2 linked regions of the Homo sapiens genome follow. The gene in region 1 interacts genetically with each later gene. Each region holds a gene or a part of one and is shown on either strand. Other genes may lie near its edges. The genes, in order: FIP1L1 and APOOL.

Region 1 (3,835 bases):
ATTTTTTAAGCATCTAATTAGGTGAAACTGAATTGATTCAATTTTTATGTTACAGGAGATTACCTGGGGCAATTGATGTTATCGGTCAGACTATAACTATCAGCCGAGTAGAAGGCAGGCGACGGGCAAATGAGAACAGCAACATACAGGTTTAGTATTTTAAAATAAATAATTTTCTTTAACTGAAGGATGATATCAACATTATAATTTAATTTATTCAATAGATAGTCATAGTGCTATGCTGTGTTTTAGGTGATACAAAGAGATTTAAAATGTGAAGCCAGTCATTTATTATAAAGGCATTTCCAGTTAGAATTTATAATCTCTGAATCTTTTTTTAATAGGGTTTTCTTTCTTTTCCTTGGTAGAAACATAGTACAGGTTGAGTATCTCTTATCTGAAATGCTTGGGACCAGAAGTGTATCAGATTTTGAAATGTTTGGATTTTGAAATGTTCATACGTATGTAATCTTAGAGATGAGACCCAAGTCTAAACATGAAATTTATGTTTCATAAATAAGTTATTTAATTTGTTATAATGATTTGTTAATTTATGATAATCTTTTTTCCTTTGGCAACCCTGAGTAAACTGTGTAGTGGGCCTGAGTTTTGATTGTGATCCGTCACATGTGAGGTTGGGTGTGGAATTTTCCACTTGTGATAAAATGTTGATGCTCAAAATGTTTCGGATTTTAGAGCATTTCAGATTTCAGATTTTTGGATTAGGAATACTCAACTTGTATATAGGTTTACTGAATGAAAAATAAAAGACCACCAGTGATTTTACCACCTAAAGATAACCACATCTGGTACATCTCTTGATACTAAGCAAAATTGGGATACTATTATAATTATATTTCTGTGTATACTTTTTTCCCCATCTAAAATTATCATTTGTATGTTTTCATATTCTTAAAATATGATTAAAATATCTTCATGATAGCTTCATTGGATAAATATACCATGATTTATTTAATGTGACATTTCTGGAGGTGGCGTAGAGCTGCTTTGTTTTTAGGTGAAAAATTGAGGGGAGATAAATTATCAGTAAGTTGGATAATTAATGTTAGAACTTTAATAACTGAGACTTCCAGCTATTCATTTTGGCCATACTTTTTTTCATTATTTATTCCTATTTTCTGAGTCCTTTTAAAAATGTCCAGAGCACTTTATTCTTACCTTTGATAAGTTGATCATGTAAAATATTCCTTTTAGCATCTTTAAAGGCAAATCATTTCTATAGTGGAAGATGTTAGTCCATTTTTCCTTTCCCCTTACCATTAAAATGCCACGATTTCTCAAAATAAATACTTTAAGAAATAGCTTATCAGCATAAGCCCTACAAAAAACACTGCACTTAAATGTAGGAAGTGTTAATGGAAAGAGGGATTGTATGTTTAAAAGATTGCTTTAGTCAGCAAGGATCTGAGAAGTATAAATTAAATATACAACATTATGTTGGCTGTCTTTCCCAAATTTATTTACACATCCTTGGGGAGCTTATCAAAAATCCAGATTTTGAGGTGCCACTTTGCTTGTTTTATTTCAGTAGGTTTGGGGTGCTTCTTATGGTGCCTGTCCCTTAACCTGTTCACACAAAGAAGCATTTTGCAAACATTGCTTTATTTTTCAAGAATAAACCCTGGTCTTAAAGTTACAAGGCTCACATGATAAAGTTACTTACATATCTTGCTGCCTATTGCTTGCAGTCTGTTGACACATGCCTGACAGTTTCTTACTTTGCAACCTGGTGATGACAGGCCCTTGTACAGTGAATGTCTGACCTGCTGCCATGTTAATTTCTTAAGGCCAGTGTCTGTGATTAATGATTACATTGCCTTAATTGAATACTTCAACTTTGGTTGGGTGACAAAGATAATACTTGTTAAATGATCTTTATGAAGTACTTTTTTCTTGTGTGGAGTGTTTGTATTAATTACTTTTTATTAAGAAATTTTTGGTAATGATCCAGTTGTTTTTTCTTAAGATTTGAATATGCACATTTTTAAAACTGTATGTATGTGTATACTCACACAGGCGTATGTATACACATATCACACATGTAGAACTATTACTCTCCCCCCAAAAATACATATATGTGAATTAAACTACCTTTTACTTTGTTTCTTAGATTAAATGAAATTAATTTACTAAGATTAATCTTACATAATATTTATGCATCTGTTTAATTAACTGTGCTCTAATTTTAGGTCCTTTCTGAAAGATCTGCTACTGAAGTAGACAACAATTTTAGCAAACCACCTCCGTTTTTCCCTCCAGGAGCTCCTCCCACTCACCTTCCACCTCCTCCATTTCTTCCACCTCCTCCGACTGTCAGCACTGCTCCACCTCTGATTCCACCACCGGGTAAATAGTAAATAAGACATTTGACTTTGAAAGAAAAATAGCTTGCGAGTGTTTTTTAAAATTTTTGACAATTAAAATAATATCTTGATCACATTTCATTAAAAGTAATAGATATAATATCTTCAACAGATTCACACTGAAACAGATATATATATGTTTATTGCTATTTCAATATAGGAAAGAGACAATGTTCTAAAATTAAGAAGAATATACAGATACCAATCTTGTGATTCAAAAATATGATAATGATCCCCAAACTTAAGTTGCTAATAGAATATGTATAAATCCATACTCAGTTACAAACTTTACCAGTGTTAATTTGTTTTGAAAAAAACATTAAAAGATACTTTCAGGATGGGAGTAGATCAAAAAATTATATCTTGCGAAGAGATTGATTAATATTTCAGTCTGGTCTTCTTCTGTATACCGGTTTCCTTTTAGGAGACTGCTACTGGGTGCCTGGTATTTATTTCTTTTAAACAAAAGTAAATGTTGATCATATTTTTAGCTACTTTTGATTACAATTAAAAACCAGGTTAGTGGTGATAGAGAAGAAACTCACAAATAATTCCCAAATTTTATTTTTATTTGAATTTTTCATCGGGTTGCCTTTCTTACTTTGTTTTTAACCTTTATCTGCCTTAACCAAGTTTTTATGAAACTAGCAAGATTGATTGAGATAATAATTACTTCTTCCCAGGGAGAAAGCTAGTAGTAAATGATGAAAAAATAGCTGCTTGTCCTCATCAGGGCAACATGAAAGACGTATGTTAGGCTTTACTTCCTATTAATCAAATCAGTTTATACTAGAGAGCCATGTACTCTCACTCACTTTTATTTGCAAGAGAGCTGTCTTTGTTTTAAGGTGCCAGTTGTGATCCGAGTACAGAACCAAATCCAGGGTCTGAATAGTCCTTCCCTAACATATTCATCCTTGGCCTCTAAATGTCAGCCACTGCTTCTGTCTTTCATCTTCAGTGCCTTTGATTTCCTTCCACTGTCACCTCTACTCTCAAAAAGTATGAGAAAAATATGAAAAAATGACTTGTGGCTTTAGAGGGTCTGTTGTCTCAACAATAGTGGAAGGAAGAGGTTGGAATATAGGTTAGAGGTCCTTATTCCAGACAACATTAGTATTTCTAATTTCAGTGAATTTCTAGTTCCAACAAATAGATTGAGCAGAAACGACTCATTAGTTGGGATTGACTTGTGGTTCTTGTGTCTTTAATATGCTGAGTATTAACCAAATGAAAGAGGACTTAGGTGATTCAAAATGAGGACTTCTGTGATTTCTATGTGAATCCTTTGTCCTCTGAAAAAGAATTAGATAAATAAAAGGTAGAAATAATTAATGTTTCAACATATTTGATTAATGATACTAAAAAAATTATTAATGTTTGTGGTACTCTGTTGGATTCCTTTGTAATATTACTTAAACTTTACTAGGTAGTGATTTGAAATAATTTTC
Region 2 (3,835 bases), on another chromosome or scaffold:
GATTACTTCTGAATATTTTCTTCTTTGGCTAAGTAAAGTGTTATTTACTTGTTGGCGTTAGCTCATAAGACCATTCTAACTACAGTAAGCTATTGGGCAAAGTAGAATACACGTGACTTTAATGCTTAGCCTTCAATCAGCAATATCCATCAGCAGAGTGGTGGAGTAAGCTGATGCAACACTAATGTTTCATTATCATCACATAAACATCATTGTGTTAGCATCTCCAGTGTCAGTATCTTAATGTTGGTACCAGTGTTTTCATCATTCTAACCTAGTAACCATGCGACTTTTCCCCAAATATAGCCTGATGGTGAATCATTGTTCTTTTTAGTTTCTATCCATTATCTTTAAAAAGAAATCTAATGAACTTATGAAAAATAATTTGTGCTTAGGTGAAATACCAAATCAATGAACTCTGGTAATTCCAGATAATATTTCAAATATCTGATAAGTACATGATGTTATTTTTGAAAACTTGTGTTTGTCATACAATTCTTATGGTACTAGTTGTACTACACACTATTAATAGTTTGATCTAAGAGGGAAATACCTTAACCAATTATGGTCTGAATCATGCCCCTATGACTATGTGCCAATAGCTAGATGATTCAGACTTAAGCCTCCTGAGATGTAATTTTCCATAATGTTCTGAAATTTTTCTTCAGTGAGATAAAATGTTCCTGAGAGGTCTTTAAATTGCTATTGTAACTGTCATCCAATTTAAGATTCAAAAGAATGTTTTATTCCATTAATATGCTCAAACAAATAGGTTGAAGAAAGGCAATTTCCAGTGCATTTTGTCCTAAATGTAAACAATTTTTTTTCCTAATTTTCCCCTAAAAATGTAATCCATTCTTTAAAAATTATGTCTGACTCAAATTCGTTCCACATTAAAGCTTGAATCATGTAGAGCAAATTCAATTTCTACTCCTGCTAGCTTAGTGTTTTGAAATTTAGGTAGCACTGACCCCATGTGGTAAAAATGAATTCCTTAGCAGAGCTAAGAAAAATTTTTTTTGAAAGATGACTAATTTTCTTCCTTAATGGTTAAATGATTCCCAATCGACTGGTCAATAGGTATTTTAACTTTGAAGGTGAAATATTCTCAAGACAGTCCCTACAGAAAAGTAGTTCAATAGCAGTTAGCGTTTATGCTGATTTGTACAATTTTAAACCAAGATGAACCTCTGCATCTCTCTGATAACCATTAAAATATGTAAGACAAAATTACAAAACCAAGCTATCTCTATAACAAAAACTTATTTCTTCCCTGTCCAATATAATAATATCTGTTTTCTCTGCTTTGAAAGTCTCTTTTGTTCTTGTTTTTATCCCATGGTTTCATAGCAGCTAGTTCAGAGAAGGATTGTGTTTTCTGGTTCCATCAACAGAGTACAATATGACCACGAGTAAATCATTTTGTGACTTCCTTTTTTTTCTTATCTAAGTGAGGTAATACCTAGCACTCAATAAATATATTTAACACTCTTTTGCACTAAAATAAATCAGTTAGAAACAGGTAAAGTTAAAGATTTGCTTTAAAACTTTAATTCCTCTGATGTATTAACATAGTTTTGATTTCTAGAGAATTTATGTTCCGATTTAAAAACAGGATAAACACTGGTCTATGTAGGATGATTTCTGTCCTGAGGTAATTTAGATTTTTTTCTCATTCTAATGCACACTAAGAAAAGGGAGGAAGATGAAGCCCTTTGCTTTAGGCTTTTTGCTCTTTTTTTCCCTCCACAAATCATTATGTTGTTGCTATTGCAACTTTATTAATCAGATGTTGCTTCTAAACTGAAATATACCTCCCTTCTTCTTTATTTAAATTCCATTTATTTTTCTAGGTCATTATAAAATAAGATGATAAATATTTTTTTCAGTATCATTTCTGCTCTGATTATTTCATAGGCACATTATCCATTTATATGAGAAAAATGATATAAATGTTATCCATGTTAAATAGAATGAAAAGCAGGAAATGAAAACAAGCTGGTAGTGAATACATAGGAAAGCTGGATTTAGATTTGGGCATAATGTTAAGTCAACCTTTTAATATAATCTCAGAGATGCAGGCAATTTTATCTCATTATCAACAGCTTCAAAAATGCAGATGTCTTCCCCCCCTTTTTTTTTGCTTAGGGTGTTTATGTCTTTGTGAAAAATGGGATAATGGATACAGTACAATTTGGAAAAGGTAGGTGAGTAGATAATTAGAAATGTTTTATTGTGTTTTTAAATTGCATTGTTTAAATGTGAGAAAAATAAACTTGGTATGTTACCCATTATCATGCATTTACCAACTCAGAAGGTACTCTCTATAGCAATTTATTGATTAATTTATTGATTATTTGTTGATTATTGATTAATAGCAAAGCAGTAATATTCATTATTCAGCAGTTATTATTGGCTAAGGTGTTGTACTTAGCATTTTACATAATTTTTGTCACAATTATGTTAGTATTGGTATTATAATTATTCCCATTTTACAGATGAGGGCAACTGAGGTTTAGGAAGGTTAAGTAGGTTATCGAGCTTACGTAACTGTAAGTGGTAGTGCCAGGATACAAACTGAGGTCTGTTTTAACTACAAAGTCTATATTATATATCATAAAGCATAAATTAAAAACATGTCTCCATTGTTGCTAATTAGTTTAAGTGCTACTTGCTGTTAAAATACATTGTATTTTGCTGTCAATTGCTAGGAAATGTTATAGCAATCACTAACCCTGGAATATTTAAGCTAATGGTTAAAAAGCAATTATACTTGACTCTTTAGCTTGTTAATGGTGTTTGGCAACAGATATAGCTTTGTAATATTCTTGGCTTATGCCAGTTGTCATAATAAATATGTATAGGAGATAGAAAGATGAGCTAAAATGTTGAATGTTTCCATGAAGTTGATGACCTGTATTTGAATTGTCATTATTTAATGTATTAGGAATAAATTCAAAATTATATTCCTCATCAATCATGAGGAATAGGATTAAATATGTGATTGCCATTAAATAATTAACTATGATAGAAAAGTGTACTTTTGGAACCAGAAACAAATTCAACATATAGAAAGCCAAGAACTACTCTTCATCTACTTTTTGTCTAGGCTCACTGATGATTGACTTTAACCAACAGCAGTGGCTGTCCTGAGGTTATTAGGGAGTAGTGGCAAGCAAGGTCTAGTAGCTGTGTATATCCTTAAACTATTATTCAAAACTCCTTAATAAAGTATCTATTTCATTTCTTATTGGAGGCTACCAGTGTTTGAACAGATAAGGGCAGAAGTTCATCATAGAGATATAATACATACGCAGTCAGAAATTTACCTTATAGTAACCCATATTAAGATGTGCCCTCTAGCATTACATTTCTTTATAGTAATAACCGTCAGTATCATTAGGAAAAGAAATATTAAATCAGCTACGGAAGGAAAATTTTATTTTGTAACAAGTAAATATATCTAGTTTTTTAGCTTGCTACTCATATTGTCATTATATGTAGCTCTTTTGAAGAATATTTAAACCTCATTATTATCTTAGCAAATCTCTTTAACCTTCCTGCATTATAACTGTATAGAATATCCAGTAGAATTCAGTTATTCATGTTAATTTTTAACTGATTTCTTGAGATGCTTATGTCTATCTGAAGAATCCTCCTCGAGATTTTCTTCCGAAAATGGGAGTTATTACAGTTTCAGGATTGGCGGGCTTGGTTTCAGCGAGAAAAGGTAGGGTTTTAAAAAATATATTCTCTCTTAATGCCATGATATTAGTTTCTGAATTTTGTGGTCATGAGAAAACCTCATATGCTTTATTGAATATTATCTGGATAG

Evidence for each region.
Region 2: changes in FIP1L1 (region 1) and APOOL together harm fitness more than expected from each alone (negative genetic interaction), as found in Homo sapiens cells (one large-scale study listed by BioGRID).

The regions. Positions count from the first base shown.
Region 1 is NC_000004.12:53,425,817-53,429,651, forward strand, and holds part of FIP1L1 (pre-mRNA 3'-end-processing factor FIP1), read left to right. Parts: intron 1-55; coding exon 56-149; intron 150-2,210; coding exon 2,211-2,367; intron 2,368-3,835.
Region 2 is NC_000023.11:85,052,196-85,056,030, forward strand, and holds part of APOOL (MICOS complex subunit MIC27 precursor), read left to right. Parts: intron 1-2,148; coding exon 2,149-2,203; intron 2,204-3,631; coding exon 3,632-3,730; intron 3,731-3,835. UniProt on the Homo sapiens protein: Component of the MICOS complex, a large protein complex of the mitochondrial inner membrane that plays crucial roles in the maintenance of crista junctions, inner membrane architecture, and formation of contact sites to the outer membrane.